Linked DNA regions of Homo sapiens. The protein of the gene in region 1 purifies or fractionates together with the protein of each later gene. This does not show direct contact. Each region holds a gene or a part of one and is shown in the gene's direction. Other genes may lie near its edges. The genes, in order: RRM2B and INPPL1.

Region 1 (17,538 bases):
AACAAGAGGGTCCCTGCCCTCCCACAGCTATGACTTTACCCTAAAAGCTTCACAGATATTCCAACTCTCACCACTCTTGGTCCATCCATGTGCTATCTGAAACTAGTTTATGTGCTCATTGTCTGACTTCCCCTAGTGACCCTACACAATAATAGCAGAGGCTATCAGAAACTCTATCCTTGTTCACTTCTCTTAAGCCCAGTGTGTACCACAATGCCTGGTCAAAAATCATTTATGAATCAGTAAATTATATAGTTCCCATGTCAGAAACGGAATCATTCAATTCCCTCTTTACCCCTAACATTCATATTAACCATCAAGCCCTACAGTTACTATATATTGAACTCTTGAGTTAATCTACTTCTCTCCACATCCACTATCATTACCTAACTTTGTCACCACCTTCTACCTAGATTATGTCAATAGCTTACTAACCAGTTTCTGTTTATTGTTTTGCTCCCTTTAATATGTAGAGGCAGAACAAGTTCTAAAATGCATATTAACCATTTTACTCACTCACCTGTTTAAAATACACTGACTTTCCACGGATGGCTATGTAAGATGAAGTTCAAACTCAACAAGGCCCTTCATGATTGGATCTTGCTTTACAGCCTTATATTTACTTACTATCTTGTTATACTGAAAGACTTGCAGTCCCCTGGTGGGTTATGACCTCTATCGCCTTGGAGCCTGTATAAATACTTGCTCCCTCTGACCTTACTGCCCACTCTTTATGGCCCCTCATCTTGGAATGGTTAGTTCCTATTCATAATTCAGAATCCGGTTTACCCACCTCTTTGAGGTGCTCTCCTTGACCTGCCCTCCACCCTCCACCTTGACAAAGCTGTTTTACTTTCTTTGTACTCCGTCTGAACAATGTATCTGCTTGATTTTCCCTTCTACTCTGTAAGTTCCTTTAGTGTAGGAACTCTGTCTCAATTACCTTTTTCTCTCCAGTGCCTGGTAGAATGTTAAATTTATTGAATGGATTCAAATGACCAACTTCAATCCAATTTAGGAACATACTATTGTAATCTGTTGTTTTTATCTCACCTGGAACTCTGCACCTTTGAAATGTTGTCTTATTATCCAACTCTATGACCCAAAACTCCTGTCCTTCCAATGCTCTCACACTTACGAGTAAAAGAAAGTTGTCTCACTTCTTTTCTTCTGCATTTAGCCTAGACATAGCAACTTATTCTGAAACAGTTAAGAGGGAAAATGTTCTTTGTACTGAACTCGAAATTTTTTAGAAAAAATCTATATTGCTTGTTGATTCTTTTGCAAAAACTGCTTTACTTACTATTAATGTGACGGGTTGCTAAGTATGGCTTTCAGGTTGTCACAGCTGGATCAGATCAATGGCTGAGCCAATCAGTTCTGAACCACATTACTAGAAACCCCCAGTTGGATCTCATGAGAATCATGATCTTGACATGTCCAAAACAACTCACTATTTTCCTACTAAGACTTCATGGGCAAAAGGCACTGCTAACTGCCTAGTCTCTGGATTAGAAACTTGTAGTCATTGCTGGGCGCAGTGGCTCACGCCTGTAATCCCACCACTTTGGGAGGCTGAGGCAGGCAGATCACCTGAGGCTGAGAATTCGAGACCAGCATGACCAACATGGAGAAACTAGTCTCTACTAAAAATACAAAAATTAGCCAGGCATGGTGGCGCATGCCTGTAATCCCAGCTACTTGAGAGGCTGAGGCAGGACAATCGCTTGAACTCAGGAGGCGGAGGTTGCAGTGAGCCGAGATCGTGCCATTATACTCCAGCCTGGGCAACAAGAACGAAACTCTATCTCAAAAAAAACAAACAAACAAAAAAAAAAAACTTGTAGTCATCCTAGAATCCTCCCTCTACCCTACACTCCATATCCAACCACTGATCAAGTCATCTTGAGTACATTTACTTAACTCACATGCACGGATTCTTCTTGCATTCCCCACCACCACTGCCTTATTTCAAGCTTGCTTTATCCTGTACTGGGCCTATTCCAACTAGCTCTAAACCAATCTAATTCCAAAATTTTCACCTTCCTTCACACTGGAGGCCTTCCTGAATTATAAATGAATGGCTCATTAAATATAGACCTGTTTAGTGATTTTCAAACTAGGGTTCAGGATCTGCCAATTTTCCACAAGCATCTTATTTTGATTCTTAATATATATATGCAGTATCTTGAATTACCTGGTTGACCATTTATGATGGCACTGATGTCAAATAATACATAAAAACTTAAAGAATGGAATTAAATATGTAAATGACACATTTGTTCCTTATGAAAGGCAACTGATAAAAAGAGTTGTAGAAAAAGTTATCCCATGGCTACGATGCAAAAAAACATGCTTCATTAATGGTCACTATAAAATTCACACTGATGCAATATAGTTTCAGCAAAGCAACATCATCATCCATTGCTTTTGGTTGTAAACTGGAATTTTACCATTTCTATAGTCTTGTTTGTATTTAATTTATAGATCTACTTTTAGTTGTGTAAAGCTCCAAGAATAAGGAGTTTATTACTGGTCTTAGGTTTGTACATACTTAAGTAACAATACATATGTAGTTTAAGTCAATATCAAAGTGGCTGTGAAAATTTTTTTATTTAAAAGGGGTTGAGGCCAGGCACGGTGGCTCACACCTGTAATCCCAGCACTTTGGGAGGCCAGGGCAGGCGGATCACTTGAGGTCAAGAATTTGAGACCAGCATGGCCAACATGGTGAAACTCCATCTCTACAAAAATACAAAAATTAGCTGGACATGGTGGTGTGTGCCTGTAGGCTCAGCTACTCAGGAGGCTGAGGCAGGAGAACCCCTTGTACCTGGGATGCAGAGACAGCAGTGAGCCGAGATCATGTCACTGCACTCCAGCCTGGGCGACAGAGTCAAGACTCTGTCTCAAAAAAAAAAAAAAAAAAGGGCAGGGGTGTTGAGACATCAAGTTTGAGAAATGAGGATTTACCCAGTAAATGACATACAATAAGACAGCAATAGCTTGAAATTACATATTTTCTATACAAAAGGCTAGCTTGTCTTCCTAGGCGATCACCACACAAATCTCTAAGTGGAATGGATGCTGGACCAGTTACTATGGCTGCATAACAAATTATCCCAAAATTGGTGGCTTAAAACAACCATTTGTTAGGCTCGTGGATTCTGTGGGTTAGGAATTTGCACAGAACCCAAGATGGTGTTTTTCCTGCTCCATAATTTCTGGGGTTTTCAACTGGAAGGCATGACAGCTAGGAGTTGGATTCCTCTGAAGGCTCATTCATTCACACATCTGGAGGTTGATGCTAGCTGTTGGCTGGTGCTTCAGTTGCTTTCCATGTGGACTTCCCATGTAGTCTCTCTGTGTGAGCTAGTTTTTGGCTTCCTTTAGCATGGTACCTAAGCTCCCAAGGAAAGTGCCCAAAAGAGAGACAACACCAAAGCTATCTGTAGTGTCCTTAATGAATGAGGCTTAAAAGTCATGCATCACTTAACAACAGGAATATGTTCTGAGAAATGTGTCATTAGATTATTTCATTGTTGTGCAAACATCATAGAGTGTATTTACACAAACCTAGATGGTAATGCCTACTATACACCTAGGCTGTATGTGGTATTGCTCCTAAGCTACAAACTTGTACAGCATGTTACTGTACTGAATATTGTAGGCAACTGAAACACAATTGTATTTGTGTATCTAAACATAGAAAAGGTACAGTAAAAATATGATATAAAAGGTTTTTTTAAAAAGGCACACTTGTATAGGGCAGTTACCATGAATGGAGATTGCAGGACTGGAAGTTGCTTTAAGTGAGTCAGTCAGTGAGTGAATGTGAAGGTTTAGAGTATTACTACACACTACTGTAGATGCCATAAATACTGCATACTTAGGCTACAAGAAACTTATGAAAAATATTTTTCTTTCTTCAATAAATTAGCCTTACCTTACTGTAACTGTATTTCAAAAACGTTTTAAATTTTTAAAGCTTTTTGACTCTTTTGTAATAACACTTAGCTTAAAACAGTGCATAGCTGCACAAAATTTTCTTTCTTTATATTCTTATTCTATAAACTCTTTCCTATTTTTTAAAATAATTTACTTTTTGAACTTTTTTTGTTAAAAACTAAGACACACACATGCATTAGTCTGTGCCTACACAGGGTCAGGATCATCAATATTACTGTTTTCCACCTCCACATCTTGTCCCACTGGAAGGTCTCCAGGGGCAATAAATACATGAAGCTGTCATTTCCTATGATAGCCATACCTTCTTCTGGAATACCTCCTGAAGGACCTGCCTGAAGCTATTTTACAGTTACTGATTTTTTTATATATATAATTAGAAGGAGTATACACTAAAATAATGATAACTATAGTAAATACATAAATCAGTAATATAGATTATCACTATCAAGTATTATGTAGTGTACATAATTATATAAGCTATACTTTACACACTGGCAGATTTGTTTACAGTAGCATCAACACAAACACATGAGTAATGTGTTGTGCTATGACTATAACGTCACTATGATAGGAACTTTTCAGCTCCATTATAATCTTATAGGACCACCACCATATATGGGGTCTATCATTGACCAAAATGTTACATGGCACTTGACTGTATCCTATTTGTTAGAAGTTAGTATTAATAGCCGGGTGCCGTGGCTCACGCCTGTAATGTCAGCACTTTGGGAGGCCGAGGCAGGTGAATCACGAGGTCAAGAGATCAAGATGATCCTTGCTAACACGGTGAAACCCCGTCTCTACTAAAAATTAAAAAAATTAGCTGGATGTGGTGGTACTCGCCTGTAATCCCAGCTATTCGGGAGGCTGAGGCAGCAGAATCACTTGAATCCGGAAGGCGGAGGTTGTAGTAAGCCGAGACCGTGCCACTGCACTCCAGCCTGGTGCCCGAGCGAGACTCTGTCTCAAACAAACAAACAAACAAACAAACAAACAAAAGTTAATATTGATGGCCTATATGCAAAGGGAAGTGCATTAGACACCACCTTTTAAGGGGAGGTGTATCCAAGTTCTGGAACAGCATATGGTACCAGAAATATTGTTGTGGCCATTTTTGGAAAATACAATATGCCATAAAGTCCATATGAAGATGCAGAATCCTCTTACTCCTTGAGATCTTTCAGTTACGCGTGTTATTTTTTTCCATTTGCTCTTCCAATAACTTTGAACATCCTGGGGGAAACTCACACTGCCTACACTATTCTGAGTACTGTGATGTTTTTGCTGTGTCATTTAAGAATATTCAATTCTGCCACAGAAATTGAGAGAAACTAAGTATGGGAGCAAATGGCTTGTTAGACATAATGAAATTTGTAAGATGTATTAAGTATAAATAATAAATAATTACACTGTGAGGCATGTTAAAAATAGGATGAATGGAACATATATGTATTGAACATACACAAAAATAATGGAACACATGAGAGTTCCACTTTTAGATTAAAAGGGCTAGAAGGACCAAGTAAATTTTTTTTTTTGAGACGGAGTTTCGCTCTTGTTGCCCAGGCTGGAGGGCAGTGGCACAATCTCAGCTCACCACAACTTCCGCCTCCCAGGTTCAAGCGATTGTTCTGCCTCAGCCTCCCGAGTAGCTGGGATTACACGCTTGCACCACCACGCCTGGCTAATTTTTTATTTTTAGTAGAGACAGGGTTTCTCCACGTTGGTCAGGCTGGTCTCGCACTCCCGACCTCAGGTGATCTGCCCACCTCGGCCTCCCAAAGTGCTGGGATTACAGGCGTGGGACACGGTGCCCAGCCCCAAATAAATCTTAAATATTCATAAGGTAATGATCATGTTACTGCCAGACTGACAACTATGTTATCCCTAAACCAGCCACTCACTGGTGAGATCCACTCTGGCCCCACACGTGCTCTGTCCAAGAAACACAGATACCATCCATAGCTGCTCAGTAGGTTAATTATAACTGGTTATAAATGCAGTTATAGCTGGAGTCAGGTTCCAGCAGTTCTCCAAAAGAAAAGTGTGTGCTGGCTCCACCTTCTACCTGCTGAGCAGTCTTGCTCATCCTCACTATGGTCCTCATAACTACACCACCAGCAAGGAAGTCTGATGCATCAAACAGTACACGAACAGTAACATTAAGATTCAGATGGTATAATCCTTCCACTCTCTCCCCTCCCCACATCCTAACCAAAATATGTTAGTCCACTCAATCTCTTTCCCCTTGCTGTTATGTTTTAAAATGATTTAATAGGGTACAGCTTGTGTGCTTGTTTGGCACAGAACTGGCACCTGTTTTGTGAAGTGGCAGCTAAGAAGACTCTGGCTGACAGAAAGCCCAAAGAAGGAGGCAAGATTGAGAACAACAATCCTATTAATTTGAAGGTGGCAGGGCAGAATGGGTCTGTGGTGCAGTTTAAGATTAAAAGGCATATTCCAGCCGGGCGCAGTGGCTCACACTTGTAATCCCAGCACTTTAGGAGGCCAAGGTGGGCGGATCACCTGAGGTCAGGAGCTCGAGACCAGCCTGGCCAACATGGTGAAACCCCGTCTCCACTAAAAAAAAATACAAGAATTAGCCAGGTGTGGTGGCAGGTGCTTGTAATCCCAGTTACTCGGGAAGCTGAGGCAGGAGAATCACTTGAACCTGGGAGACAGAGGCTGCAGTGAGCCGAGATCCCGCCACTGCACTCCAGCCTGGGTGACAGAATGAGACTCCGTCTTAAAAAAAAAAAAAAAAAGGTGTATACCACTTAGTAAATTAATGAAAGCCTATTGTGAACAGGGTTAGGCAATGAGGTTGATCAGATTCTAGACTTCATGTGCAACCAATCAATGAAATAGACACACCTGTAAAGTTGAAGATGGAGGCTAAAGATACAATTAATGTGTTCCAAGGACAGGAGGTTTTGACTAAAAATGGAGCCTGCTACTTTATTACAGAACTCTGTTCTTACGGACCAAGAATGCATTTTCAATTAGAAAACTGCGATTTGGTTCCATCACACCCTGACTACTACAGTATAGTTTTCTCTATCATTTTCCTCTTCCCCATTACTTTATTATATGTATATATTAGTTACAATGTAACTATGTAAACAATTAAATGTGTAACTGCAAGATCTCTAGGAGTAACAGAATTCTACATCTTCATATAGTCTTTATGGCATATTGTATATGCCATAGTTATAATGCATAAAAGCGTATTGCATTTTTTAACCAAATGGTCAATTTTTTTTTTTTTTTTTTGAGACGGGGTGTTGCTCTTGTTGCCCAGGCTGGAGTGCAGTGGCGCGATCTTGGCTCACCACAACCTCCGTCTCCCGGGTTCAAGTGATTCTCCTGCCTCAGCCTTCCGAGTAGCTGGGATTACAGGCATGCGCCACCGTGCCCGGCTAATTTTGTATTTTTTTAGTAGAGATGGGGTTTCTCCATGTTGGTCAGGCTGGTCTCGAACTCCCGACCTCAGGTGACCCACCCGCCTTGGCCTCCCAAAGTGCTGGGATTACAGGCGTGAGCCACTGCGCCTGGCCCCAATGTTATCTTTTGATCCGCATCAAATGAAGATAGGATGGGCGGAGAAATATGGTTTTGTGAAGACTCCCTTCTCCATTAATGCCATGCTCATTCAGGTCTTATCTTTATATTCCAGTTCGTTATTTTGCTCTGTTTTAACCAAAAAAACCCCACACACAAAACAAAACACCATAACAGTTTTTGCATATCTTCTTCAGTTGAAGAATTGTAATGTATTTTGTTTATGATTGTAAAGCCAAGGACAATTCTTTTTTTTTTTTTGAGACTGAGTTTTGCTCTTGTCATCAAGGCAGGAGTGCAATGGCACAATCTCAGCTCACTGTAACCTCTGCCTCCAGGATTCAAGCTATTCTCCTGCCTCAGCCTCTCAAGTAGCTAGAATTATAGGCATGCGCCAACACGCCCGGCTAATTTTTGTATTTTTAGTAGAGACGGGTTTTGCCATGTTGGTTAGGCTGGTCTCGAACTCCTGGCCTCAGGTGATCCACCCGCCTTGGCCTCCCAAAGTGCTGGGATTACAGGCGTGAGCCACCGTGCCGGCCTAGCCAAGACAATTTTATAACTCTTTGTACGTGGCTATTACATGTAAGGCAATCTTTCAGTAATGACACATTACTCTTAAAAAAAAATCCTAGTTTTCCTTTCAAGTCAAATGTCTTGTTTGAATAAACTTATTTAAAATGAAAATAAATTGATTTAATAAACTGTGTGACTCAGGCATCTCAATTTGATCTGAGCCTTTTGAACTCAGCCATCTGAGTTCCATGACCCTCTGGGATGGCCTGACTCGTACGTGGAAGCTACCATTGCATCAAGGTAATTTCCCACCCCAATAAGTGTTTTACAAGTAATATATTATTAAATTCACACAACAACCTTATGAGGAAGGGATTATTATTCTTATCCTGTAGATGAGAAAGCTGAGTCTCAGAGAGGTTAATTGACCCAAGGTAGCATAGCTAATAAGTGAGGGAACTAGAATTCATGCCCATGATGATATGACTTTTTCACCAAACTCATTCATGTTTGTATCTTGAATACCTAAACGTGATGCCCGACACACAATTATTGTTTGATGACTTTAATTGAATCTGATTATTTGCCACGTGGCCTATAGTAAATTGAGACTCAGTTGCCTAGCAGAATGTATGTGGCTATTATTTAAAGTTCACAGATGAAAAAAATTTCACTCAGCATTTGACCCCTAGTAGTTGCTTTAAGAAAGACTGTCTACCCCTACGCTATGGCAGGTTTGAGAAAGGGCTTTCAGCATTTTCAACGCTTAAAGTGAGATCTTGATCCTATTTACCATCCTTCAGCCAGCCACAAAACAGGTGCATGCTGTTCAGGTCATGGCAAGATCCCGTCAATCTTTCAGCTTCAAACTACTTAAACAAATCTCTCTTCCATTTTATTTTTGTTAGACCAAACTATTTTTTTCAAAATATATTTTTTTCAAAATATTTGCCTGACTTTAGTAACGTGTCCCTCTCCCCCTCACTCACCCGCATTCACACACACACACACACACTTTCCCCCAGACACTTCCCCTTTTCGGTTGTTTACGCACGAAACCAGCCAGCCCTTTCCCTAGCGAAGTGTTTGGCGGTGTAGCTGTCCCGTCCCCGGCGCTTCCCACAGCAACAGCGCGTTCTCTTCGCCTCCCGCAGTCTCTCAGGACAGGCCAGGCTAGCGCAAAGTACCGTGTTCCTGGAACACCACGAGGGCGAGCTCGGGAATCTCGAGCCGGCCTGCAGGACACCTGCCGCACCAAGTGGCTAGAGCCCGGGGAGGGCGAGGCGAGGTGGGACGAGGCGGGGTGGTGAGCGGGCCGGGAAGGCGAGGCCGCGCGGACTCTGGGATAGCTCCTCAGGAGTGGGCGCCCGGAGTGGGCGAGCGGAGGAGGCGGGGCCGATGAGGTGAGGTGGGGCCAGCTGGAGTAGGCTAAGCAGTCCAGAGCAGGGGGCGTCCCTCAGTGGAAAGCCGGGCGACTGGGCGGTGCAACAGAGTAAGGCGGGGCCAGCGGAAGCAGGGAGATTTCCTTAGGCCGCAGGCGGGGAAATGGGGCTGGCCGGGGTAGGCGGAGCCCCGAGGCAGGGGAGGCGTGGCTGGCAGAGGTAGGCGGTGCCCCAAGGCAGGCGGGGCTTGCCGAGACAGGGATAATCCCTTAGGCCACAGGCTGGGAGGCAGGGCAGGCCGAGGCGGGGAGGATCCCTTAGGCCGCAGTAGGGGAGGCGGGTCGGCCGAGGCGGGGAGAAACCCTTAGGCCGCAGGCGGGGAGGCGGGGCTGGCCGAAGTTAGGCGGAGCCCCGAGGCGGGGGAGGCGGGGCCGGGCCGGCGCAGGGAGAGTCACTCAATGGACAGGCGAGAAAGCAGGACCGGCGCGGCGGGGCGGGGCCGGCCGAGTCCCTAGAGCTGGGGGCGGGGCGGACCCAGCGGACCAGCGGACCACCTGGGTGCTGTCGTAGTTGGAGGTGGCCTGAGGAGCTCAGTTCCCTCAGCGCCCGTAGCTTCGGCGGAGTCTGCGCGATGGGCGACCCGGAAAGGCCGGAAGCGGCCGGGCTGGATCAGGATGAGGTAAATGTTGCTGTTGCGTCTTCCCCCTCACCGCAGTCACGCCAGCCCGTTAGATTGCAAGTTGCAGGACCGCTGTAGGAAATGTTATTCGCCGCGGTCAGGACAGGCCTGTCCGCCCGCCCTCGCCGCAGCCTGGCTTCGTCGTTGCGAGCGCCGGGGAGGCCGTCCCCGGGGAGGGCGGAGGAAGGAGCTGACTTTGGGTTTGCGTCCCGCTCGCTGCTCTGCCCCGGGGCCAGCCAAGGACGACGCTTGGAGGCCTCAGGCCGGGGTGAGACTTACCCCTGCGTTTATCCGCCTCACGCTCTCCCACCCTCCTTCCCTGTTTTGGAGCCCTGGCCAGGGAAACCGAGGCAAGGAAAGAGGACTGTGGCGGCTCTGCTGGAGAGGTGCATACCATTTGGGATGGTGACAAGGAGTTGGAGAACGCGTGTGGAAATTGACACAGGTGGCTGGGGTGAAGATGACAGGTAGAAGGGGACACGAAATCCTCATGACCTCCTCCCAGTGAAAAAATCAGGGTAGGAGGCCAGTTTTGCTCAGGCCCGGCTCCTTAACTAACTGAATCTTCGGGGTGTCACTTTCTTCCTTTATACAATGGAAGTGATACTTCAGAGAGAATTAAGTAAAATGCTTTATGCAAAGTGCCACGAAAATTGTAGGTGCTTAATAAGCCCAAGTTGTTCATCCAAGTTGTTTATGCTGATAAAAGTACCTAAAATAAATAAACCAGAATTTGTTAGACTGTAGGATTGTATGGTAGTTTAAACTGTTGCTGTATAATTTTCAAACACTGTCATTTTGCAAATACTTCTAAGCCCTTTGTGGACAAGAGAAATGCTTTTTGTACTACTGGAACCTGTTGCTGTGGTATCTTTGATTTAATACTGTGAAGATTTGGGGGAAACAAACGTTTCCACCCCAAGAGATTCATGCTTGGCCCTACATTTCTTTAGAAAGTTGTAGATTCCAGGTTTGAGATTTTATTTTATTTAACTTGATTTTTGTAAGCATTTAGTAACTAACTGTAAATATCCCTCAAGCTTTTTCTTCCTGTTTTGAAACAAATGCGTTTAGTACCAACTTCCCTACTCAAAGGGGAAAATTCAGACTGCTGTTTATGCTAATGGCACCAGCAGTGATTCAGGCTTAACACCTGGATATTACATTTTATTTATTACTCCTATCTCAATGATACAGACCCGCAAGGACAGACAGAATTTTAGATTCAGAATGAATTTTAGTGGTCCAAAAGTTTTTAACTTGAGATGCTGGGTTGCCTGAAGCACTTTGTTTTTCTAGATGCCAGAGTGCATAATAGGAGACCTGCATCAGAGTCACTTGGAGTATTTTGTAAAAAATGTAAATTGCTGGACCAACACCCCAAACATAGTGAATCAAAATCTCTTGAGATCTGCATTTTTAACAAGTACTTCAGGTGATCCTGGTACACATATTAAAACAAAAACAAAAAACCCCCCACTGTCTTAAAGGGTCCATAGATAGACTAGAAGGGGCTTTATAAATCTCCTGAAGTGATATGTAGATTTTGTATGTGCAGATGTGAATCTTCTGAGAAAGGGGTCCATAGTTATTGTCAATTTCTCAGAGTTAACTATTGCTAATCTAATTCATAGTCTATTGTCAAGGTAAAGTTTAGGCCAGAAAACATTAAATGGCATGCCCAGGACTCAGTAGAGGAGCTAAATTTAAAACCAAGTTCTTGCACCTGGGCGGGTATCCCATTGGTTCCGTCAGACTTTGTGGGAATAGAAGTGAAAATAATACTTACAAGTAGTGTATGACTATGACAACATACAGCTATTTTACAGAAGTAGAAGAGACATAAAGGCAAAGAAACGGAAGTGGTGGAATTGGGGCTGGATAGGAGGTAAGAGCCTGGTATGATGCCAGCCTAGATTGGGGCATCGTAAGTGCTTGCTGGGAAATCTTGACCTAAATTGTTGTCCTGACATGCCCAGGCATGTCTTCCAACTGGGTGACCAGAAATTGAGTCAGTCGGAAACTGGAAGTACCATTCTGGAAAAAACAGCAGAATGTCACTAAGGAATGCCTACTGCTAAACTTTATTTCAAATTCTCATCACTTTACACCTGTGCGGCTATAATAATTTTGTTGTTTCTCTATCTCCTATCTTACCTGCCATTCAATCCTAATTACCATTGCCAAGTTAATCCTTCATTAGACCAGTGCCTCAGTGTCACTGACCCTGTGTCCCCCAAAAAACTCCCAAAAGAGTCTCAATTCCTACCAAAAAGCCTGGCCAACACCTCAGGCTGGTGAAGTCTTGTTGAAGCTGCTTTTTTCATGCTAACTGCCACATCTTAATTCAAGTCCTCATTTCCATCTTTGAAATTGGTTCCTTAGTTGCTTGCAAAATCTAGTTTTTTATCAATTAATCCTATACGTGGTTTTCTGATTAGTCTTCCTAATGCCACCTCTATTCATGTTAATTCCCATTCAGAAACTCTCCATGACTATTTGTACCCCCAAATCTGTGGGGTACAGATTTTCAAACTGTACCCTGCTATGAACGCCAGCACCTGGGGTTGGGGGCAAATGGGGAGAATTGGAGTATGAGCCTTCTAGACCTCCGATGTTTGAAGATCTTTGGCCACAAAATTGATTCCTAACCTCTTAGTCTGATTTATCTTAAGAGTCTAGATCCTTTGCTTTAGCCAAATCACATCATTCCTACTTTTGCTTTTCCTTGTCCTGCATCCATTTCAGCCTGTTTTAATCTCAGCTGGCTTCTCTTCTTTCATCTGCCCTTTAAATATCAGCATTCTCTAAGACTGTATCCTCAGTTGTCTTGCTGCTCTATATGTTCTCTCTGGATAATCACATCCATTCCCTTGGCAACCACTAATGGGATCTCCATCACTCGTGTTCTGCAGTGTTATATTTTTAACTGCTTACTGGACATCTTGAAACTGAATTCATTATCTTTTCTATTCTTTTTTTTTTGAGACGGAGTCTCACTCTGTCACCAGGCTGGAGTACATACAGTGGCACAATCTCGGCTCACTGCAACCTCTGCCTCTTGGGTTCAAGTGATTCTCCTGCCTCAGCCTCCCGAGTAGTTGGGAGTACAGGCGTACGCCACCACGCCCGGCTAATTTTTGTATTTTTAGTAGAGACGGGGTTTCACCATGTTGGCCAGGATGGTCTCAATCTCTTGACCTTGTGATCCGCCCGCCTCGGCCTCCGAAAGTGCTGGGATTACAGGCGTGAGGCACCACGCCGGGCCTGAATTCATTATCTCTTCTAATGACCTAGTTGACTTTGTGAGGATATTGTGTTTGTAACTTTGTTGTTGTCGCCTGGCTTGGTGGGAGGAGTTAAATTAAACTTCCGTTAAACATCTAATGTGAGAAGCAAAATTTTTGTCTGATTTATTTATTTATTCTCCAGGTACTGAGCACCTTGTGTGTGCCTTTTAGATCTTGTTATCACCCAGTTACTGGAGCTGGAAACATCAAGGGCATCTTTAACTGTTCTTGCCCCTTGTCCCAAATTCAAATTTTTAGGAAGAATAATTCATTCTACTTCTGAATATCACTTAAATCAATTTTTGTGTGTGTTTCTAGTTCAGGCAAGAGATGGGTAGTACAATAATCTTTTCATTGTTCTTTCTGCCTCTAATTTCTCTTCTAATCTAGCAATGTTTCTAGAAAAGCGATCTTAAAAGATATATCTGATTATGTTATTTGCCTTATTAAAAACCTTCAGTGGCTCCCAATAGCATACATCTTAGAGTTATTAGATGCCAAAGTGTTTTATATCAAAGCAGACCACTTTAACCTCCAAAATTTTTTAAAAATCAGATTACTACTAACCAATTTTGCTCTTTTATTAACCCTGTAAAAATATAGATACCCATGAGCTTTGAAATTTCTATGTCTAGTAGGCTGCTCTCTCATGCACCCATATATTTCTTTTTGTTTTGTTTTGTTTTTTGAGATGGAGTCTTGCTCTGTCACCAGGCCTGAGTGCAGTGGCGTGATCTCAGCTCACTGCAATCTCTGCCTTCTGGGTTCAAGTGATTCTCCTGCCTCAGCCTCCCGAGTAGCTGGGACTACAGGTACGCGCCACCACACCCAGCTAATTTTTGTATTTTTAGTAGTGACAGGGTTTCACCATGTTGGCCAGGATGGTCTCGATCTCTTGACCTTATGATCCGCCCGCCTCGGCCTCCCAAAGTGCTGGGATTACAGGCGTGAGCCACCGCGCCCTGCCCATCATATCTTTTTTCACATTTTTTTTTTCTTCTAAAATATGGGTTCTTAGATTAGGTCCACAGAGGGTACTGTGGAGAGCCTAGAGTTTCAAGATGCATGAACTTTCTGAAATTGTATTCAAATGTATGTTTGTGCACGTTTCTAAGCATTATGAAATAATACGTCATCTCTAGCCCAGCTCAAAGGTTGATGTTGGTTAACCTCCTTCTCTTCACATTGCAAAATCCCTCATAATACACTCCTAATCCAGCTACTCCTCTTAATAGTCTACAGGTTATCAGGATAGAACAGGAGAATGTGTATACAAATGTGACTTTCATTCTAACTTAAAGGTACTAGTCTTCAGCAGATCAGTTATTTATCATCATTTAAAAACTTCATTCATCGTCAGGGCATTTGGTGCTGAAGAGTGACTGCTTGTGATGTCCTTCCCAACTTCCAGTAACAAAAGTATAGAAGTTCCCAACTTTCATACTTTGAGTATATCCCAAATTTCAGTAATAAAAATAACAAAGGCCAGGAGTTTGAGACCAGCCGGGGCAACATAGCATGACCCCCATCTCTACAAAAAATTTAAAAATTATCCAGGTGTGGTGACGTGTGCACATAGTCCTAGCTACTTGGGAGGCTGAGACAGGAGGATTGCTTGAGCACAGGAGTTTGAGACTGCAGTGATCTATGATCACACTACTCTGATCTATGCACTCTAGCCTGGGTGACGGAGCAAGACCCAGTCTTAAAAAAAAATTGCTCAAATATTTGTGGAATGAGTACCAACTAAGTGCCAGGTACTGTGCTAAGCACAAGGGATTCTACAAGGGTGAAAATGGATTTTACTTTCAAGAAGCACAGGAAATTAGAGACAATTAACAGGGAATTAAATTGCAGTGAGCTATGTACTTATATCTGGAACCTAACCCAGACCTTTGGGGTGATGTGAAGAGGGGAAAATGTGATTGATTTTAATGGTTATTGGGTTGTCTCACTGATGTATTGTGGTCCTATGTTAAATTAAAATTTTCTAAAGGTACCTAGAAATCTGAGTACAGGAAGAAGAGAAATTAGCAGCCCATTTACTTAGCTAACATGCTTGACACGATACTAAGCTCTGGGAACATCACAACAAATAAAAATTGGTTCCTCTTCTCCAGGGCTCAAGTGCTGTATCTGAGGAGGCCCATACCTTTAAACAAGTAGTTAAAATCAAGACCATCTGTACTGTGATGGCAGTAGGTATAAAGCACGCAAGCCCCCCTGTATTTGCATAGCCGTATGCTTGTATTTTGGGCTTTCTTCTTGCTAAGCCTTAGCCTCCTCTGCTATAACAGTTGCTTTGGCGAGGTGACAATGGGTGGACGCTGGAGTAAGGAACATAACGGGCCTGTCACAGTAGAGAGAGAGACAGTTTTGGATAGGAGTCTAGAAGTTGTATGTGTTCTAATCCTGGTTTATACACGTTTAGCTTATTTGTATGTCCTTTGTTTATACTCATTCTCACACATGTGCGACTCTTCTGATTCTCTTCTGATGTTCCCGCTATTTTAAAAATATATGCATGGCACCATTTGCTCTTAGAGTGCCATCGTGTTTTGAAGCAGTGTGAATACAGGTATGTGTTTCTCACTTTATTCACAAAGCTTTGAGACAGCCCACAGTGAGATCATATGCAGTAATGTTAGAATGTAAATAGCAGTAACAAATTGGAGTATCAGAAGGCTAAGATGAACAAAGGTTAAGTTGTAGGTAATGAGTTTTCAGATAAGTATTATATTATTTCAGTGAAGAGTAGAAAGAAAAAACATTAAAGTAGCTTATACCAGTAGCTTATTCATTCCAGCAATCTTATCAGAGAGGCTCTAAAGGGACATTTTGTTCACAAACTTAGAAATTTGCCCATCATGATGACATTTATGGGTCTAGCTTTGTACTTATCCTCAAACTAGCAATAATTACAATAATTTTTGAGTGCTTACTATATACCAGGCTTTGTTTAAAGCACTTTTAATCATCAGAATAAACCTATGAGGTAGGAATTATTTTACAGCTGAGGAGACTGAGGGTTAGAGAAGTTAAGCAGCTTTCTATGGTCACACACGCACTTCCTAACAGTATTAGTCAGCTACCAGGTAACAGTAAGGATTCAACCCAGGCAGACAGGCTCTCAAACCAATGCCGTCTCCCTGACTTCCTTAGATGTATGTTTAGGTATGAATAAAGAAGAAATGTCTATATAAAAGGCGTGTTTGTACTTTATTTTTCAAAGAGATCATCTTCAGACACCAACGAAAGTGAAATAAAGTCAAATGAAGAGCCACTCCTAAGAAAGAGTTCTCGCCGGTTTGTCATCTTTCCAATCCAGTACCCTGATATTTGGAAAATGTATAAACAGGCACAGGCTTCCTTCTGGACAGCAGAAGAGGTACGTGGCATTGCCTCCAAGAGCATTCACATCCTATAGTGCAGTGTTCCTTCTTGTTTTACAGGATATTGAATAACTTTAACTTATACATTGAAGAAGATCAGTTGTAGAAGATAAGTGTTGGAATTACTGAGACTAAATATGATGTTCTCAATGTTTTAGTTTAGATTACTATCTATAAACAAGTTTTCTGCTGCAACAATGGCATCTAATTCTGCCAGATTTTTATTTCCAATATATTAGAACATTTTTTTTCTTTTTCTTTTTTTTTTTTTTTTTTGAGACAGAGTCTCACTCTGTCACCCAGGCTAGAGTGCAGTGGCGCGATCTCAGCTCACTGCAAACTCCACCTCCCGGGTTCAAGCGATTCTCCTGCCTCAGCTTCCTGAGTAGTTGGGATTACAGGCGCCAGCCACCACGCCCAGCTAATTTTTGTATTTTTAGTAGAGATGGGGTTTCACCACATTGGCCAGGCTGGTCTCAAACTCCTGACCTTGTGATCCACCTGCCTCAGCCTCCCAAAGTGCTGGGATTACAGGCATGAGCCACCACGCCCAGCCAACATTTTCTATTTTTAAACAGACTTTTAGTTTGATATGGCCAAGTAAGACTTGTCTGACTAGTCTTACAAGGTCAGCAGAATAAGTAAAATTGCAGCTGTAGTCAAAAAATGAGTGAAAGCTGTAGCAACTCTGCTTTCAATTGAGAGATTTATCTGATTGTACAAAATGAGCCGCTGCATGAAGAGTTTGA
Region 2 (8,244 bases), on another chromosome or scaffold:
GGGCATGGGCATGAGTGAGGATAAAGGCGTTTGCTTTATTTTGGGAGTGTGGAACCTTGTTGCAGTTTGTTCATTCATTCAGGAGATGCTTCTTGAGCTTTTGCTAGATGTCAGGTCCTGTGTTAGCTATTGAGAAAATTAATTAGTTACAGTGATGCTAGGTGCTGTAAAAGGCCTGTATAGGGCTGTGTCTTCTGCATTAAGGATTTGGCTCTTCTCTGAAGAGTTGAGTGTGAGTGAGCACAGATGACCTGAGGGTGGGGATTGAGTGGTGTCAGGGGGCAGCGCGTAGGAGGGGCAGGAGGAAGTGGCGGGGCTTTGTTCCTCACTGGGCCTCCCTGCTTCCCAGCTCAAACCAATTCTGGCTGATATCGAGTACCTGCAGGACCAGCACCTCCTGCTCACAGTCAAGTCCATGGATGGCTATGAATCCTATGGTGAGGGGTGAGGGGTGCTGAGGGGAACAGGAAGCCAGACAGGGCCCTAGATTAGCTTGGTAATTTGCTGGTTTGTCCCATCTGCTCCTCAGGGGAGTGTGTGGTTGCACTCAAATCCATGATCGGCAGCACGGCCCAACAGTTCCTGACCTTCCTATCCCACCGTGGCGAGGAGACAGGCAATATCAGAGGCTCCATGAAGGTGCGGGTGCCCACGGAGCGCCTGGGCACCCGTGAGCGGCTCTACGGTGGGGACTCCACTGGGACATGAGATAGGGTGGTGTGAACAGATCAAGGAGGGCAGGGTGCGGGGGGCATGTTGGAATCTCTGGGATACCTGGAGGTTCTGCAGCCACAGCTGGGAATAGTCCTGCCCCAAGGCATAGCTGGGAAAGGGCTGGCAGGCCCACTGGGTGTCTGTGGGATCCAGGAGCCCAGGTCTCCTCTGAGTCTCCCTTCCTGCCCCCTCAGAGTGGATCAGCATTGATAAGGATGAGGCAGGAGCAAAGAGCAAAGCCCCCTCTGTGTCCCGAGGGAGCCAGGAGCCCAGGTGAGCTAGGGCTGTGTTGAATGTCATATGAAAGGGTACCTGGGGGCATCTGGTCAACCCCACTTCATCTCTCTCCTGTGCATCCCTGGCAGGTCAGGGAGCCGCAAGCCAGCCTTCACAGAGGCCTCCTGCCCGCTCTCCAGGTTATTTGAAGAACCAGAGAAACCGCCACCAACGGGGAGGCCCCCAGCCCCACCCCGAGCAGCTCCCCGGGAGGAGCCCTTGACCCCCAGGTGAGAGGAGGAACCTGTCACCGCCCCCCCTTCCCCCACCCACCTCTATCCATCACTATCCCCTGCAGGGTCTCAGGGTTGGCCTGGAGATCATCAGCTGCTTAGGTGCCCTGCCACTCTGTGGTTGGAGCTGCCATGGCCTTATGCCTGTGGCCAGCCAGGCCACCCTTAGCTGTGGCTCTGAGTCAAAGGGAGCAGTCAGCCTTTCCTCTCAATTCTGCCTTTAAAAATGGAATGCGAAATTGTTTCTAAGACAGCTCCCTCCATGTAAACAGACCTAGCTTGAGCCTTCTATTTGGAGGAGGCACATGGCTCGGCCTGGGATTTCCCAGGGTACCTTCTTTGGAACTCTGTCCTGCAAGAGGCCCCAGTTGAAATGGGTTTGTGGTCAAATGAGTTTGGGAAATGCTTTTTCTAGATTCTTTTCTTAGACATTCCCAGTGCATGTTAGTATTAGCAAAAGCTCTGAGCATGTGGACAGGAAGGAAACCTCTTTTCAGCTCTGTTTAATATAGTTTCCCAAACTTAATGGGCCAGGAAACTTATTTTCCATGTAGTAACTATTAACGTTCTGGGGAATTAGTGCTCTGTGTCACACTTTGGGAAAGTGAGGCTTGCTTTCTAATTATATCCGATTGTTGCTTAAACTTACATAAACTCCTAGGTACAGTTTGGTGCTTTTTCACTCATCTTCAGCTGTTGTCAGTCACCCCGGTTTTATCCCTAGGCTTGAATAAGACCCACCTGAATCTCTGAGAAAGATTCTGCAGCGGATTGACTGTGGGTGCCTCAAGAGGCTTTCCAAACCTGGCCTCTCATTGGAGGCTTCTTGCCCTGTCTTCTGGCACCTCTATTCTGACCCATTTAGCTTGGGTTTCACAGCTACAGATAAAGTCATGAAAGATCTAAGTATCTTAGCAAGTGAGGCAAGGGATTGTAGGGTTATCCATTCAAAGGGTTATCCTCCCTCTGACCTTTAGAGATGAAGAAACTAAGGGCAGGTGATGTGCTCAAGGTCATGAGAAAGTCTAGGACCAGGGGACTTTCTGACTCCCGTCTAGTTCTCCTTCCACTGCTTCCACTGCCTTAGACCTGGGTTCCTGGATCCTGGCTTAGTCGTTCTGCTTCCACACCCAGGTTGAAGCCAGAGGGAGCTCCTGAACCAGAAGGGGTGGCGGCCCCCCCACCCAAGAACAGCTTCAATAACCCTGCCTACTACGTCCTTGAAGGGGTCCCGCACCAGCTGCTGCCCCCGGAGCCACCCTCGCCTGCCAGGGCCCCTGTCCCATCTGCCACCAAGAACAAAGTGGCCATTACAGTGCCTGCTCCACAGCTTGGGCACCACCGGCACCCTCGTGTGGGAGAGGGGAGTTCTTCAGATGAGGAGTCTGGAGGCACACTGCCCCCTCCAGACTTTCCACCTCCACCACTGCCGGACTCAGCCATCTTCCTGCCCCCCAGCCTGGATCCTTTACCAGGGCCAGTGGTCCGGGGCCGTGGTGGGGCTGAGGCCCGTGGCCCACCACCTCCCAAGGCCCATCCAAGGCCTCCACTGCCCCCAGGCCCCTCACCAGCCAGCACTTTCCTGGGGGAAGTGGCCAGTGGGGATGACCGGTCCTGCTCGGTGCTGCAGATGGCCAAGACGCTGAGCGAGGTGGACTATGCCCCTGCTGGGCCTGCACGCTCAGCGCTCCTCCCAGGCCCCCTGGAGCTGCAGCCCCCCCGGGGACTGCCCTCGGACTATGGCCGGCCCCTCAGCTTCCCTCCACCCCGCATCCGGGAGAGCATCCAGGAAGACCTGGCAGAGGAGGTGTGTGGAGCAGGGTGGCTGTCTGTGTGTGCCTGAGTGTGCTTGCCCACAGACTGGTACCCTTTCACTCCACCATTCAGCACTCATGGTGTCCCTGCTACCCTGAACTGATCACTGGGAAGTTGGGAGACACATGTATCAGCCCAGCCCTTCCCTTCCTTTTCCCCAGAGCATGCAGCAGAATGTGACTGCAGGTGTTTCTATGGGGGGCACTCAGCTCCCCCTGACATGCCCTGTTTCCTTAGGCTCCGTGCCTGCAGGGCGGGCGGGCCAGCGGGCTGGGCGAGGCAGGCATGAGTGCCTGGCTGCGGGCCATCGGCTTGGAGCGCTATGAGGAGGGCCTGGTGCATAATGGCTGGGACGACCTGGAGTTTCTCAGGTGGGGGAGGGGCTGGCCCCGGGGGCGGAGCTGGGGCCCTCAGGATCCCCTTGCCCATCTCACTTCCCAGCCTGTTTTACTCCACAGTGACATCACCGAGGAGGACTTGGAGGAGGCTGGGGTGCAGGACCCGGCTCACAAGCGCCTCCTTCTGGACACCCTGCAGCTCAGCAAGTGATAGCGGAGGCACCACGAAGCTGTGAACTCAGAGCCCCTCCCTGCTACCAAGGCCCAGCTATGGCCCCAGGGTTGAAAAGTTATGAGGGTCAGGGCAGTATCTCTCTGCCTATTTATTGGGGTGCCTATTTATTGGGGATCTGCATTCCCCGCTGCCCAATCATTTGCAATGCCCTAATTAGGGCATCCTGCCCCTCGCCTTTTAGGCTCAGGACGGAAGGTCAGTTGCCATGGTTACCGAGGACCCTGGTTACTCTGGTGCTGTCCTGTTTTACTGGACCCCGCCTCCCAGCCCCAGGGGTGCCTGTGGGGGTCCATTTGGGTACGTCTGGGCCCCCACTTTCACCAGTTTCTGCGGCCTTCCACCGGGCCTGAACCACAGCGGAGGAGCTCCGCTAAGACCTCCCCACCCCCGCTGGGGGTGGGGGCGGGTGTCCGTCCGGAAATGAAGGAATAGCCCGAGGACCGGGCTGGGGTTTATTTAAACTGTTCTGTGTGGGTCTGGGGAGGGAGAGCACCTTAATATTATTGGGGTTGGTTGGGGTGGGGCAGGATCTCAGCCATAAAGTGCCAGTTTGCTTAGTTCTCACTGTCTCCTGGTCTGTGCTGCCCTGCTCTGGGGATGCACGGCGGCAGGGTGGGGGAGGGAGGTTCCTCGCAGGTCTCAGCCCGGGACAGGGTCTTGCAAGCAGCCTCCTGGGCAGTCGTAAGGGTTGCGGCGTGATGTCTTCAATAAATTAAGTTTTATTTGGATTGAGTAAAACTTCAATAAATTACAAGTTTTTCAAAGAAAAAGGACAACCAAAAAAATTAGGGAAAGAGAATCCCTCTGTCCCATTCCCCAGGCAGCCCCTCCACTCCTCTAACAGGTCCACCCTCTGTGCCAGACGGGCTAGGGAAGAGAGGAGACACGTGAGGGATGAATTGGCGGTGGTCATTAATTATCCCGGCGACCACCAGCCTCTGTACGGGTGGGCCCGAGGGGTGGGGCAGCGGGCTTTCCTGATCACCAGCGTAAGGGGTGACCCAGCCGCTGCAGAGCCAGGGAAGGGGGCTGTGCCGATCCTCCTTGAGGACCTTCACTTTGAGGGCACTGTTAGGGACAGGCCTCATGTGATACCGCATCCAAAGAAGGCCAAGCTAGAAGGAGCTCCGGGGTTCTCCTGGAGGAGGTCCCGGTATAAAGAACTCCGCTCTGCTGGTAGAGGGTGGGTGAGGACGAGAGTGGCCCTGACTTGGTCTCCAAAGTTGGGGAGGACACACCGAGGGGTGAGACAGTAGGGAGTGGAGACGGATGGGGACTTCCAGGCGGGTGGCCAGGATGGGAGGGGCTGTCAGGTCCTGGAGGGGCAGGGACGTCTCTGGGGGCAGGCTCGGAGCCTCCAGAGGCCGGCAGCTAGAAGAGATTGGTCTTCAGGGCGGGGCCGGGCTTCCGGTGAAAGGAGGACAGAACCCCGGAGAAGGGCCCGGGGCCGGACTCCGCCGGCTGCCAAGCCTTAAGTAGTTCGGCCGCTCCCGCGCCAGGCCCGCCGCCCCCACCGCCCGCCACACCGGCCCACAGTGCGCCCTTGAGCGGCTGTGGCCCCGGCCCAGGTCCCGGCCCGGAGCCCAGTGCGACGGGCAGCGGGCTGGGGCTCAGGCGCGGGCTGGCCAGGCCGGGCGCAGGCGGCGGCGGCAGCGAGGCGGTGCTATCGGGCGTGGGGCTGCACGTGGACTCCTTGGAATCGTCGTCCTCGGAGGAGCAGCGCGCCTCGCCCTTTTTGGCGCCCGCCGCGCCCGCCGCGCCCTTGGCGCTGGCCGCGCGCTCCTGTTTGCGGAACTTGGCCCGGCGGTTCTGGAACCAGACCTGCGGGCACAGGGGCCAGTCAGCCTGGACGAGGGTCGGAGAACGCACGGGGTCAGCCCGCGGCCGCAAGGCTCGAGTGAGATCCTGGTTCGGAAAGAACCGGGCCCGGGTTCTTACTAGTTGGAGGGGCCTTCGGCCCTCCGCACGCAGCCCGCTGCACTCCGCGCTCCACTGGCCCCTGCCTCCAGATCCCTGGGTTCTTGCCCTTGGGATCCACTCACCCGCTGACTCTGCTGCCTCCCAGCACTCTTGGTCTCCCGGAGGGGACCCTGCCTTCGTTCTCCTCACTCTAAGTTCTTCCCCCAATTCCTTCTTTTAGGAAGCTCTGGGACTTCCCTCCTGGAGTGTTCCAGGGCCGTGGAGAGCAGTTTAGGGCGCCAGTAAACCTTTTGTCTAGGGCATCCAGTCAAGGCGGGCCAACTGAACATCTGTACACGGAGTTGTACAAATAGACAACAGTCTGCTCTAGCCCGGCTCTCTTCGGCCCTGTGCCTGCCACAAACTCAGCCTCCCGGGCTCCGGGTTTTCAAAGCTGCAGCGCCGGGGTAGGGAACCCCAGGGGTGCTGACTGGCCTGCCCCCTCTCCTCCTCAGCTCGGCCCTGAGGTCCCCTGGGTCTCCCCCTCTAGCCCCTCGGCCTCCCTCCTGGCTTCTCAAGCATCACTCGGAACTTTCTGCCCTAAGAGGGAGACAGAGCGGAGGTAGCCTGGAGCTAAACAGATCGGGTCTCCCAAGGGCCTCCAAGTCCGGGCCCTGCTGCCTCCCGTAGCTGCCCAAGCACCCTGGGACCGCGCCCTGCCTTCGGGCTGCATCTGCCTGTATTCCCCTACCCCCAGGTGTTAGACATTAAGCTCCCACACCTCCTTCCATGCGCACTCTCGTACACACACGTGCATACACGCACCTGCACGCGAGCCTCAGTGAGGTCGATCTTGAGCGCCAGCTCCTCACGCGTGTAAATGTCGGGGTAGTGGGTCTCAGCGAAAACGCGCTCCAGCTCCTTGAGCTGCGCGCTGGTGAACGTGGTGCGGATGCGCCGCTGCTTGCGCTTCTCGTGCAGGCCGGATGGCTCTGGGAAGAACTTGTAGGGCACTGCGGGTGTGTGCAGGGGGGCCGGGGGGGGGGCAAAAAGGATGGGGGAGTGAGAAGCAGAGTTCAACCCGTTGTGTCCAGCTCCGGGGGAATCACACGCCTCCCCCGTCCCTGGCCTGATCCCTCGTCTTGGTCCCGGCAGCCTGGGGCCGAGCGTCCTCCCTATTACTCAATGGAGCCGGCGGGATAAAGGCGGAGGGAGATCAGGGAGACCTGAGCCCCAAGAGCGGCCAAGGGGAAAGCATAATCCAATACTCCAGCCAAGACACTCCCTCCCCCACCCCACCCCCGTCGTCGCCCTCCTCCCAAGCCCTGTTCCCTCCATCTCCCCCTGCACCCCCATTCAACCGTGCCTCCGACCCTTCCCTCCTGTCTGTCTCTCAGCCCGTCTGTCCCCTCTGTCTACCCTGGCCCTGGATGTCTGTCAGGTCTCATCAGCATTGCCAGTCTTCCCACTAACCAGTTCTGGGCCAAGGCTCTGCAACAGAGACCCTCCCACCGGCCCTCCTTTCAGCCCTACCACCAGCCTTCCCACCGGCTCTCAGCTGTATACAGATTTGGCTCCCTCCACCCATCCACCTCTCCCCTTCCCAAGCCTCATTTCTTCAATTCTGCCCCACTCCCCTGACCCCCATTCTCCCCTAGATGTCCCCCTCTCCTCTTCCTAATCTTCCTCCATTTGAATCTCTCTTCAACTTTCCATTTCTCAGCCACTCTTCTCTTTGTGCCCATTGAGAAGACTTCCTCCATCTTCTCTTTGCGCCCATTGAGAAGACTTCCTCCATCTTCTCTTTGCCCTCCTTCTTCCTCCCCAGGCACCTTCTCCATGTCCCATCTCCTCCAAAGCCAACACTGCCCCCCAACTCTCTTCCTATACCCATCCCAGTCTCCACTGCCCCATAGGTAGTGTTTCTGACAGTACTTCCCTTCCCTGTCTGTAACCCTGGTTTAAGTCTTCATATTCACCAGGGGTCTCCAATCTCATCTTTGTCCCATCCAGGCCTCCATCTCCCCTGATTCTTGTCTCCAGCACCCCATTTGTATTCTTATCTTCGTCATCTCTATTTCTAATCTTCTTTGGTCCCCATCGCCTGATACTTATCTCTATCTCCCCAACCCTGAGTCCCCATTTCTCCTAGGATTTCCAGTGCTTCCATCTCTGCTCCCATCTCTCTGTACCTTATCCCCATCTCTCTGGTCTCAAAACCCTGTATCTCTGGAGGCTGTCTCCCCTCTTCCCAATCCCTACCCTCATCTGGCTCAGGGTACCCAATCTCCCCACCCTGGGCCTCATTTCTCCAAATCCAGGTTCTCATTTCTCGTATCTCTTCCCCAAACCCCAGCCTAGGGCCCAGTCTTCTTCTTCTTCTTCTTCTTTTTTTTTTGAGACCGAGTCTCATTCTGTCACCCAGGCTGGAATGCAATGGCACAGTCTCAGCTCACTGCAACCTCTGCCTCCCAGGTTCAAGCGATTCTCCTGCCTCAGACTCCCAAGTAGCTGGGATTACAGGCGTGGGCCACCATGCCCAGCTAATTTTTTTTTTTTTTTGTATTTTTAATGGAGATGGGGTTTCACCATGTTGGTTAGGCTGGTCTTGAACTCTTGACCTCAAGTGATCCACCCGCCTTGGCCTCCCAAAGTGCTGGGATTACAGGCATGAGCCACCGCGCCTGGCCCTTAGGCCCCAGTCTTCTACTTGGGTCCCCGGCAGTCTTCCCAG

Evidence for each region.
Region 2: the proteins of RRM2B (region 1) and INPPL1 purify together in Homo sapiens (affinity purification with mass spectrometry; 3 studies listed by BioGRID and IntAct, with this or other methods). This does not show direct contact.

What each region holds. Positions count from the first base shown.
Region 1 is NC_000008.11:102,231,396-102,248,933, reverse strand, and holds the start of RRM2B (ribonucleoside-diphosphate reductase subunit M2 B), read left to right. Parts: upstream 1-9,972; 5' UTR 9,973-10,059; coding exon 10,060-10,107; exon of another isoform or gene 10,108-10,111; coding exon of another isoform or gene 10,112-10,375; intron 10,376-16,629; coding exon 16,630-16,785; intron 16,786-17,538.
Region 2 is NC_000011.10:72,234,767-72,243,010, forward strand, and holds the end of INPPL1 (phosphatidylinositol 3,4,5-trisphosphate 5-phosphatase 2), read left to right. Parts: intron 1-349; coding exon 350-437; intron 438-529; coding exon 530-685; intron 686-908; coding exon 909-987; intron 988-1,079; coding exon 1,080-1,220; intron 1,221-2,357; coding exon 2,358-3,030; intron 3,031-3,275; coding exon 3,276-3,409; intron 3,410-3,496; coding exon 3,497-3,587; 3' UTR 3,588-4,381; downstream 4,382-8,244. Other genes in the region: PHOX2A (paired mesoderm homeobox protein 2A), read right to left, coding at 4,983-5,516, 6,336-6,523. UniProt on the Homo sapiens protein: Phosphatidylinositol (PtdIns) phosphatase that specifically hydrolyzes the 5-phosphate of phosphatidylinositol-3,4,5-trisphosphate (PtdIns(3,4,5)P3) to produce PtdIns(3,4)P2, thereby negatively regulating the PI3K (phosphoinositide 3-kinase) pathways.